2 linked regions of the Homo sapiens genome follow. The protein of the gene in region 1 interacts with the protein of each later gene in a biochemical or structural test. Each region holds a gene or a part of one and is shown in the gene's direction. Other genes may lie near its edges. The genes, in order: VMP1 and TMEM41B.

The links.
Region 2: the proteins of VMP1 (region 1) and TMEM41B form a complex in vitro, tested with the Homo sapiens proteins (one study listed by BioGRID).

What each region holds. Positions count from the first base shown.
Region 1 is NC_000017.11:59,710,510-59,714,426, forward strand, and holds part of VMP1 (vacuole membrane protein 1), read left to right. Parts: intron 1-3,917. UniProt on the Homo sapiens protein: Phospholipid scramblase involved in lipid homeostasis and membrane dynamics processes. Has phospholipid scramblase activity toward cholesterol and phosphatidylserine, as well as phosphatidylethanolamine and phosphatidylcholine.
Region 2 is NC_000011.10:9,312,331-9,316,247, reverse strand, and holds the start of TMEM41B (transmembrane protein 41B), read left to right. Parts: upstream 1-1,654; 5' UTR 1,655-1,806; coding exon 1,807-1,927; intron 1,928-3,917. UniProt on the Homo sapiens protein: Phospholipid scramblase involved in lipid homeostasis and membrane dynamics processes. Has phospholipid scramblase activity toward cholesterol and phosphatidylserine, as well as phosphatidylethanolamine and phosphatidylcholine.

The sequences.
Region 1 (3,917 bases):
AAATACACACATACGCACATAAGCCTTATTTACAAACTTTTTTTCCCTCTTTAGCTAGTTTAGTCTTATAAATTGTAGCATAACAAAAACTGTGCTTGGCTAGATTTGAAGTGTAATAGATTAAGGAAAGAAAATCAGTTATATTCTTCAGAATAGTTTGTCTGAGTTCATGCTTCATGACTGTCATGTGTTGAGTTATCTTTCTGGCAAGTGGAAATGACGGAGGAGCCTTAACACGTGTCTACTGTGAATGTTGTTGCTAAAGAGTAGGAGAGAACTGGCCAGGCGCCGTGGCTCACGCCTGTAATCCCAGCACTTTGGGAGGCCGAGGCGGGAAGATCACCTGAGATCAGGAGTTTGAGACTAGCCTGTCTAACATGGTGAAACCCGGTGTCTACAAAAAATACAAAAAAATTAGCTGGGTGTGGTGGCAGACGCCTGTAATCCCAGCTACTCAGGAGGCTGAGGCATGAGAATCGTTTGAACCCGGGAGGCGGAGGTTGCAGTGAGCCGAGATCGCGCCACTGCACTCCAGCCTGGACAACAGAGCGAGACTCCATCTCAAAAAAAAAAGAGAAGAAAATAAAAGAAAAGCAGTAGGAGAGAACTGTATTATTTGCTCTTACAAAAAAAAAAACCTCCCCAAGCTGTTTGTAATTTTAATATTTTGTTATGTTAATTATCTATTATATATAGAGCCATTTCTCTAGTTATTTTATTCTGGGTAAATAGCCATTGTAGAAGAGTTAATTCTTTGCATTGTTGGGTACTCTTTTTTTTTGGTTCCATTGATTTAACAAACTTTTTAGTCTCTTTAGTCTTTCTCGGAGATGATAGTTCTAGGTGCTACTGTCATTCCTGTTTTTGCCCAAGTGCCCTTGCTGTGTCTCCCATTTTGGTGTGGAAATGAACTCTAGATTAGAGAATCCTAATAAACAGGACAAATTGAAGTGATAACTTTGTCGTGGTTTTGTAAATTGTTACTCTGCTTTCACAAAGCCTTGCAAATATTTTGAGGAATAGTAAATTGCTAAGAGCATATTGCCTCAAGAAATTCCTTATTTTATATGGGAAAGCAGCTTTGGATGGAGTTTGCTGAACTGAAGTTAGGTATTATGTAGGCCCTTATATAAAGCTTATTTTAAAATATGCTCCTTGATTTGCAGCATCAAGGAAATTTGAACAGGAGATAATTTTCTGTGTCAGATAAAAGGTGATACTTAAAGTTTAAGGCATATTTAAATTAAGCAAGGGCAATCTATTGAGTAATTATATCACAGCTAATATACCTATAATTGCTCAAGAGTTTGTTTGTATTCTTGAACTACTTAATCTTTTCAGTAGTTCATGGGAGTATTTTCTCTTGTCCTTGAGTTTTTTAATGATAACTTTGTTCTTTATAGATTACCTGGAAGGACTAGGCAGGTAGTGTTAAAAGCCAGGGCTATAAAGCTAGACTGCTTTTTTTCAAATTCTAGCTCTATTACTATGCAACTCTTGGATTAGTTACTTTTTACTTCTTGCTATCTCAGTTTCCTCCTGGACAATGAAGTCAATACCCTTCTTGTTAGGATTGAATGAATAGGTTTAAATAAAGCATTTAGAACAGTGTCTGTAGCATATAGTTAACCATGATTGTGATCATTATCATCATGTGGCCCCCTAAGCTATTGCCAAGAACTCTTTCCCAGCCCTCTTTTAAAAGCATAGCTTTATGTTGCTGCTTACTTAATTATTGTTTGCTCATTATTAATGAAGTTCCAGTAAATAAATATCTGAGTATACACTTCACTTTGTCTATATTTTACAACATATGTGAGATTCTTAACCAAATGAGGCATTCTTTTGGGCCATTCTGTTAACTTTTTGGTATTAACAGACTACATTATCTGTGTAAGCCATAACACAGAATTTGGCAATTGAAACTTTTGATGTTTCATGATGTCTTTTAGCACTTTCTTGGAATGGAAAGATCATTTTCCAGTGACATCTATTGCCTTATCTGTTCATTATCCAGTCAGTGAACAAACATTTTGTGTCCCAGGCCTTACACCAGGTTCTGGGGAAAACAATGGGAAATAAGAATTGTTAGGAAGGCAGCACATGAGGGTCTAAGAGAGAGTTAACAATGTGGATATATGCTTATTTGAGGCTGGAGCATAATAGACTTGGAATACATTGACATGAGATGATATAGGAAATATATACAGGATCCAGGTCATGCAGAATTTTGCAGGCCAAGGGAATGAGTTTGAATTTGATTTTGAGTGCAGTAGGAAATCATTCTACAATTTTAAGTAGAGGAGTAATAGGATTTATAAGAAGTTCATTGTTGTTCATGTGTGAAGGATGAATTGAAGCGGGCAAGAACAGAAATGGAGAGAGAAGTTGAGAGTCCACTGCATAGTCCAAGAAGAAGATGAAGATGGTCTGGACTAGAAGGGTAGCAAAGAAGATGGACAGTTGTGTGTGGATACCAAATATATTTGGTATAGGACTTGGTCCTGGGTTAGATGAGTGGTAAGAAAAAGGGAAGTGTCAGGGATGACTAAGCTTCTGGATTTAGTGACTGGGTGGGTGGTTGTGCCAGGTACTGGGAGAAGGGAGGTTTGGAGAAGACCAGGTTTGTTTGTTACAAGAAGGTGGGTAGGTGTAGGGAGAAAAGGACATGTTAATTTTGAGACACTTAAAGAATCATCTATGGACACAGGAGGGGGGACATCACACACCGGGGCCTGTTGTGGGTTGGGGGAAGGAGGGAGGGATAGCATTAGGAGATATACCTAATGTAAATGACGAGTTAATAGGTGCAGCACACCAACATGGCACATGTATACATATGTAACAAACCTGCACATTGTGCACATGTACCCTAGAACTTAAAGTATAATAATAATAATAATAATAAATCATCCAAGTCACGCACTTACATATATAAATCTAGAGGTCAAAACCAGAAATACAAATACGGGATAGTATTTTCAACCATGGACCAGATGAGTCACCTGGGGAGATAGGGAGAGGAGAGGGCCAAGGGCAGGTAAAAGAAAGATCTGGGCTGGATGCAGTGGCTCACTCCTGTAATCCCAGAACTTTGGGAGGCTGAGGTGGGTGGATCGCTTGAGTCCAGGAGTTCGAGACCAGCCTGGACAACATGGCAAAACCCCATCTCTCTTTTTTTTTTTTTTTTTTTGTTAAAAAAAAGAGAGACTTTTTTTTTTAACAAAACGGAGACTAAGAAGGTATCTTAGGGCTGGGCACAATGGTTCACACCTGTAATCCCAACACTGAGAGGCCAAGGTGCGCAGATCACTTGAGGTCAAGAGTTCAAGATCAGCCTGGCCAACATGGTGAGACCCCATCTCTACTAAAAATACAAAAATTAGCTGGGCGTGGTGGTGGGCACCTGTAATCCCCACTGCTAGGGAGGCTGAGGCATTAGAATCGCTTGAACCCGGGAGGCAGAGGTTGCAGTGAGCCAAGATCGTGCCACTGCACTCCAACCTGCGCAACTGAGCGAGACTCCGTCTTAAAAGGAAAAAAAAAAAAAAAAAAAAAGAAGGTTTCTTAGTCCGTTTTCTGTTGCTTATACCAGAATACCCGAAACTGGGTAATTTATAAAGAAAAGGAATTTAATTTTTATAGCCGTGGAAGCTGAAAAGTTCAAGATCGAGTGGCCACATTGGGTAAGGGCCTTCTTGCTGGAGGGACTCTGCAGAGTGCCGAGAGTATCACATGGAGGGGGAGCTGAGTGTGCAAGCTCAGTTCTCTTTTTCTCTGCTTATAAAGCAACCAGTCCTACCCCCATGATAACCCATTAATCCATTAACCCATTAATTTATGAATGGATTAATTCATTCATAAGGGCAGAGCCTCCGTGACCCAATCACCTCTTAAAGGCCTTGTCTCACTCTACT
Region 2 (3,917 bases), on another chromosome or scaffold:
AAGCCATGGCACCTGGCCCATAAATATAATTTCCTAAGATTGAAAATTTATTCGGCTGGGCACCATCTCAAAAAAAAAAATTATTCAACAAATTCATTGAATGGCCACTTAGGTATTGGCACTCTGTCAGCTACCGGGGATACAATGGTGATCAAAAAGACAAAGCCCAGCTGGGAGCCATAGCATGGAGCCTGTAGTCCCAGCTACTCAGAGGGCTGATGCTTGAGGATCCCTTGAGTCCAGAAGTTCAGATCCAGCCTGGACAATATAGTGAGATTCCCATCACTTAAAAAAACAAAAAACAAAAAGACAAAGCCCCTGCCTTAAAGCTTATATTCTAAAGGTGGAGGCAGACAATAAACAAGTAAACAAATAGTTCACAGAATTAATTGCTTTTAATGACTATGAAGGAAATAAAATGGGAGCCAGAAGTAGGCAAAGGATGTGTACATAAAACAGTTCAATTGAATGGGTTTCCCATAATTTACTTAACCATTTTTATTTAGTGTTGGATTTTTATATTGCTTTTAGTTTTTCACTGTTATACTAATACAGAGGAATTATTTATGTTTATTTTCATGGAATAATTTCCTACAAATGTAATTACTGAATAGAAACAATCAGGATTTTTTTTTTTTTTTTTTGGGACGGAGTCTTGCTTTGTGGTCTATGCTGGAGTGCAGCGGTGCAATTTCTCACCGCAACCTCAGCCTCCGGGGTTCAAGCGATTCTCCTGACTCACACTCTCGAGTAGCTGGGATTACAAGCCATCATGTCCAGCTCATTTTTGTATTTTTAGCAGAGACGGGGTCTCATCTCACCATTTTGGCCAGTCTGGCCTCACACTCCTGGTCTCAAATGATCCGCCCGCCTTGGCCTCCCAAAGTGTTGGGATTACAGGCTTGAGCCACCGCGACCGGCCTCTAAGTTGCTTTCAAGAGGTAACCACGGTGAGTAAGCTGAATGTGCTCTGAGGGGTAGAAGCAGAAAAAGTTACCTGTGGAAAAGGCATGTTTCCGCTTAGCTTAGGGATAAGCTAAATGTAGAGCTGACTTGGGTTTAGTAGTAAGGGGCAGCAGCTAATGCAAAACCGTTAGCTTTGGGAACAGGACAACCTGGATTCTAAGCCCATTTTTGCCATCCTGTGATCTTCACAGGTTGTACGTAGCCCTCTCTGAGCCTTAGTTTCCTGAAATTCAGGTAGGTTTTGCTCAACCTTTGTATTTCCCACCATCTTTTAGATCAAGCACTCTCTGGCGCCTCCAAATTGAAGACAGCAGCTGCGGAATTGATGTAATGGGCTGAATCAGCCTCAGCCGCGAAATGCCGACTAATCACAGGCACCTCCGGCGGCCTGGACAAAAGGTTTGAAGTCCCTGGGACCGCACTTCCGGGTAATTAAGGCTACGCTTTAGACGCCAGGGCCAGCGAGTCGCAGCCGGGTGACTCGAGTGCCGCGACTGCGCATGCTCTCGCCCCAGCGCCCGGCGGCCACCTCTTTCCCGCGGGCGGGCCGGGGCGGGGCACTGAAGGGGGCGGTCCAGGACCCTGACTTGTCTCGCGGTTACTGGGCCGGCGCGAGCACGCGAGGCTCGGGGGCGGCACGGGGCGGGGTTTAGCCTGTGGTGGGCGCTGCGGGTGTTTGCAGGAGGTTGCAGTACTCGCTGGGCTGAGGTCGTCTCGGGTGAGGAGGTCGCGCCGGAAGTGGCTCTAGCCGTGGCGCTTCGGCGTAGTAAGGAGCCTGCAACAGAGTTTTGTTGTTTAGGGGGCGCGGCACCGCACCGCTCCCTTCACCTTGCAGCAGCCATGGCGAAAGGCAGAGTCGCCGAACGATCGCAGTTGGGCGCTCACCACACGACCCCCGTGGGGGACGGGGCAGCGGGGACGCGGGGTCTCGCGGCGCCTGGCAGCAGAGACCACCAGAAGGGTGAGTGGGCCCGGGGAGCAGAGCTGGGGGTGGCCCGAGGCTTCTGTGTGTCGGGTGGGGAAAAGGACCCCCGCTATTCTCGGAGAGTCGCGGGGAAAGAGGGGGGCCTGCTGGCGCCGCGGCGGGAGCAGAGACCGTGGGGGAGTTGGGCTTGGGCGCTCGCGCAGCACAAGGCCGGACGCCGAGTAGGTGCGTTGTAAATGCTGTTTGAGTAGAATTCATTTAAAAGAAGGGATGACACTGGCTTGTTGACGCTCAGGTAGATTGTAAGGTTGATGATAACGACGCTAGGCAGAGCTGGAAGGAGCTGTACTGTGGCATTCGCTGCGTTGTTTTTACAGATGAAGAAACTGAGGCCCAGTGTGGGTATATGACTTATAAAGTCATAAAGCCAGATCAGTGAAGTAGTAGTTAGGAGCGAGGACTTAATACTTCCAGGTGGCAGTACACCTGGGCTTGAGTCCCTGCCCTACTGTTTACTTGGAACCTTGGACTTGGTAACTTTCAAAAAAAGCTCAGTGTCTGAACTGTGAAATGGGGATAATAATAATATCTACTTAATAGGTGGTGCGTGGGTTAAACGAAATAATTCACGTAAAAGATTTAGAGCAATGCTTGGATATGAAGTGGGGGCTAAATAAATATTAGCAATTACTTAGTTACAGCTAAGGTCACTCATTCTAAAGTTTATTTCCCCACTACATCATCCTGACATTTCTCACGGCTTTATTTTTGGTTTTTGTTTTCTCTTTATTCCTACTGCCTCTATAATTGCAGAATCTCACGGCTTTAAATATTGTTTTAAGGAAAAAACTGTACGTAGAAACTAAATACTTTGATTCCGTGTTGGCCTGGAATCGTTCTTTAAATGATTTTAAAGCTCATAAACTTAAAGTGATCCTAACAAGTTTGTCTGTAGCTCACATAGGTGTGTTCCACCACCAGTGATGGCTAGGAGAACTTCTAAGAGTATGTAGTAGAAAATGTTAATGTATTTTCAAATAATTTAAAATGTCTCCAACAGTCTAATTTGGCTCTGTCAGCCTTATGTTTTTGGGTATTTTTCCAGCTTATATACACTGGATCCAGGTGACTTCATATAATTTCAAAAACTGAGAAATGAATCGTTGTTAATGTATAAATCAGCTCTGAATAAAAGAAAGATTGTTTTGAAGACTCTACTACTGAGGGTGACAATATTCCAAGGTCTGGGTTTCCTGAAAAAGTGTTCCAGATAGGGCATCCCTAAAAATTGACATCTCATTTGAGGTAGCAGCCAGTTGTATTCATGATTTTTACCTAAAGCTATTCAAAAAATAAAACCTTGAAACTTCCAAAGTGCTCTTACTTTTTAATCTTATTTTATCATTACAACAAAACATTCAACACAATTATTCTTTTTTTTTTTTTTTTTTTTGAGACGGAGTCTCGGTCTGTCACCCAGGCTGGAGTGCAGTGGCGCAATCTTGGCTCACTGCAAGCTCCGCCTCCTGGGTTCACGCCATTCTCCTGCCTCAGCCTCCCGAGTAGCTGGGACTACAGGCGCCCACCACCACGCCGGGCTAATTTTTGTATTTTTAGTAGAGATGGGGTTTCACCTTGTTAGCCAGGATGGTCTCGATCTCCTGACCTGTTGATCCGCCCGCCTCGGCCTCCCAAAGTGCTGGGATTACAGGCGTGAGCCACCACGCCTGGCCTACAATTATTCTTATGATGCTGTCCCATGACATCTATAGATCACAAATCTATAGGAAGACAGGGAAGAGATGTGAAGGCGTGCCTTCACTTCATGATGAAGTAAGGCCTGTTTTTAGTGACTTGAGACAAGGCCTCGCTGTGTCACCTATGCTGGAGTGCAGTGGCATGATCATAGCTTGCTGCAGCCTCAGCTACCTGGGCTCATGCGATCTTCCCACCTCAGCCCCCTCAAATAGCTGACTACAGGTGTGTGCCACCATGCTCAGCTAATTATTTGTTTTTTGTAGAGAAG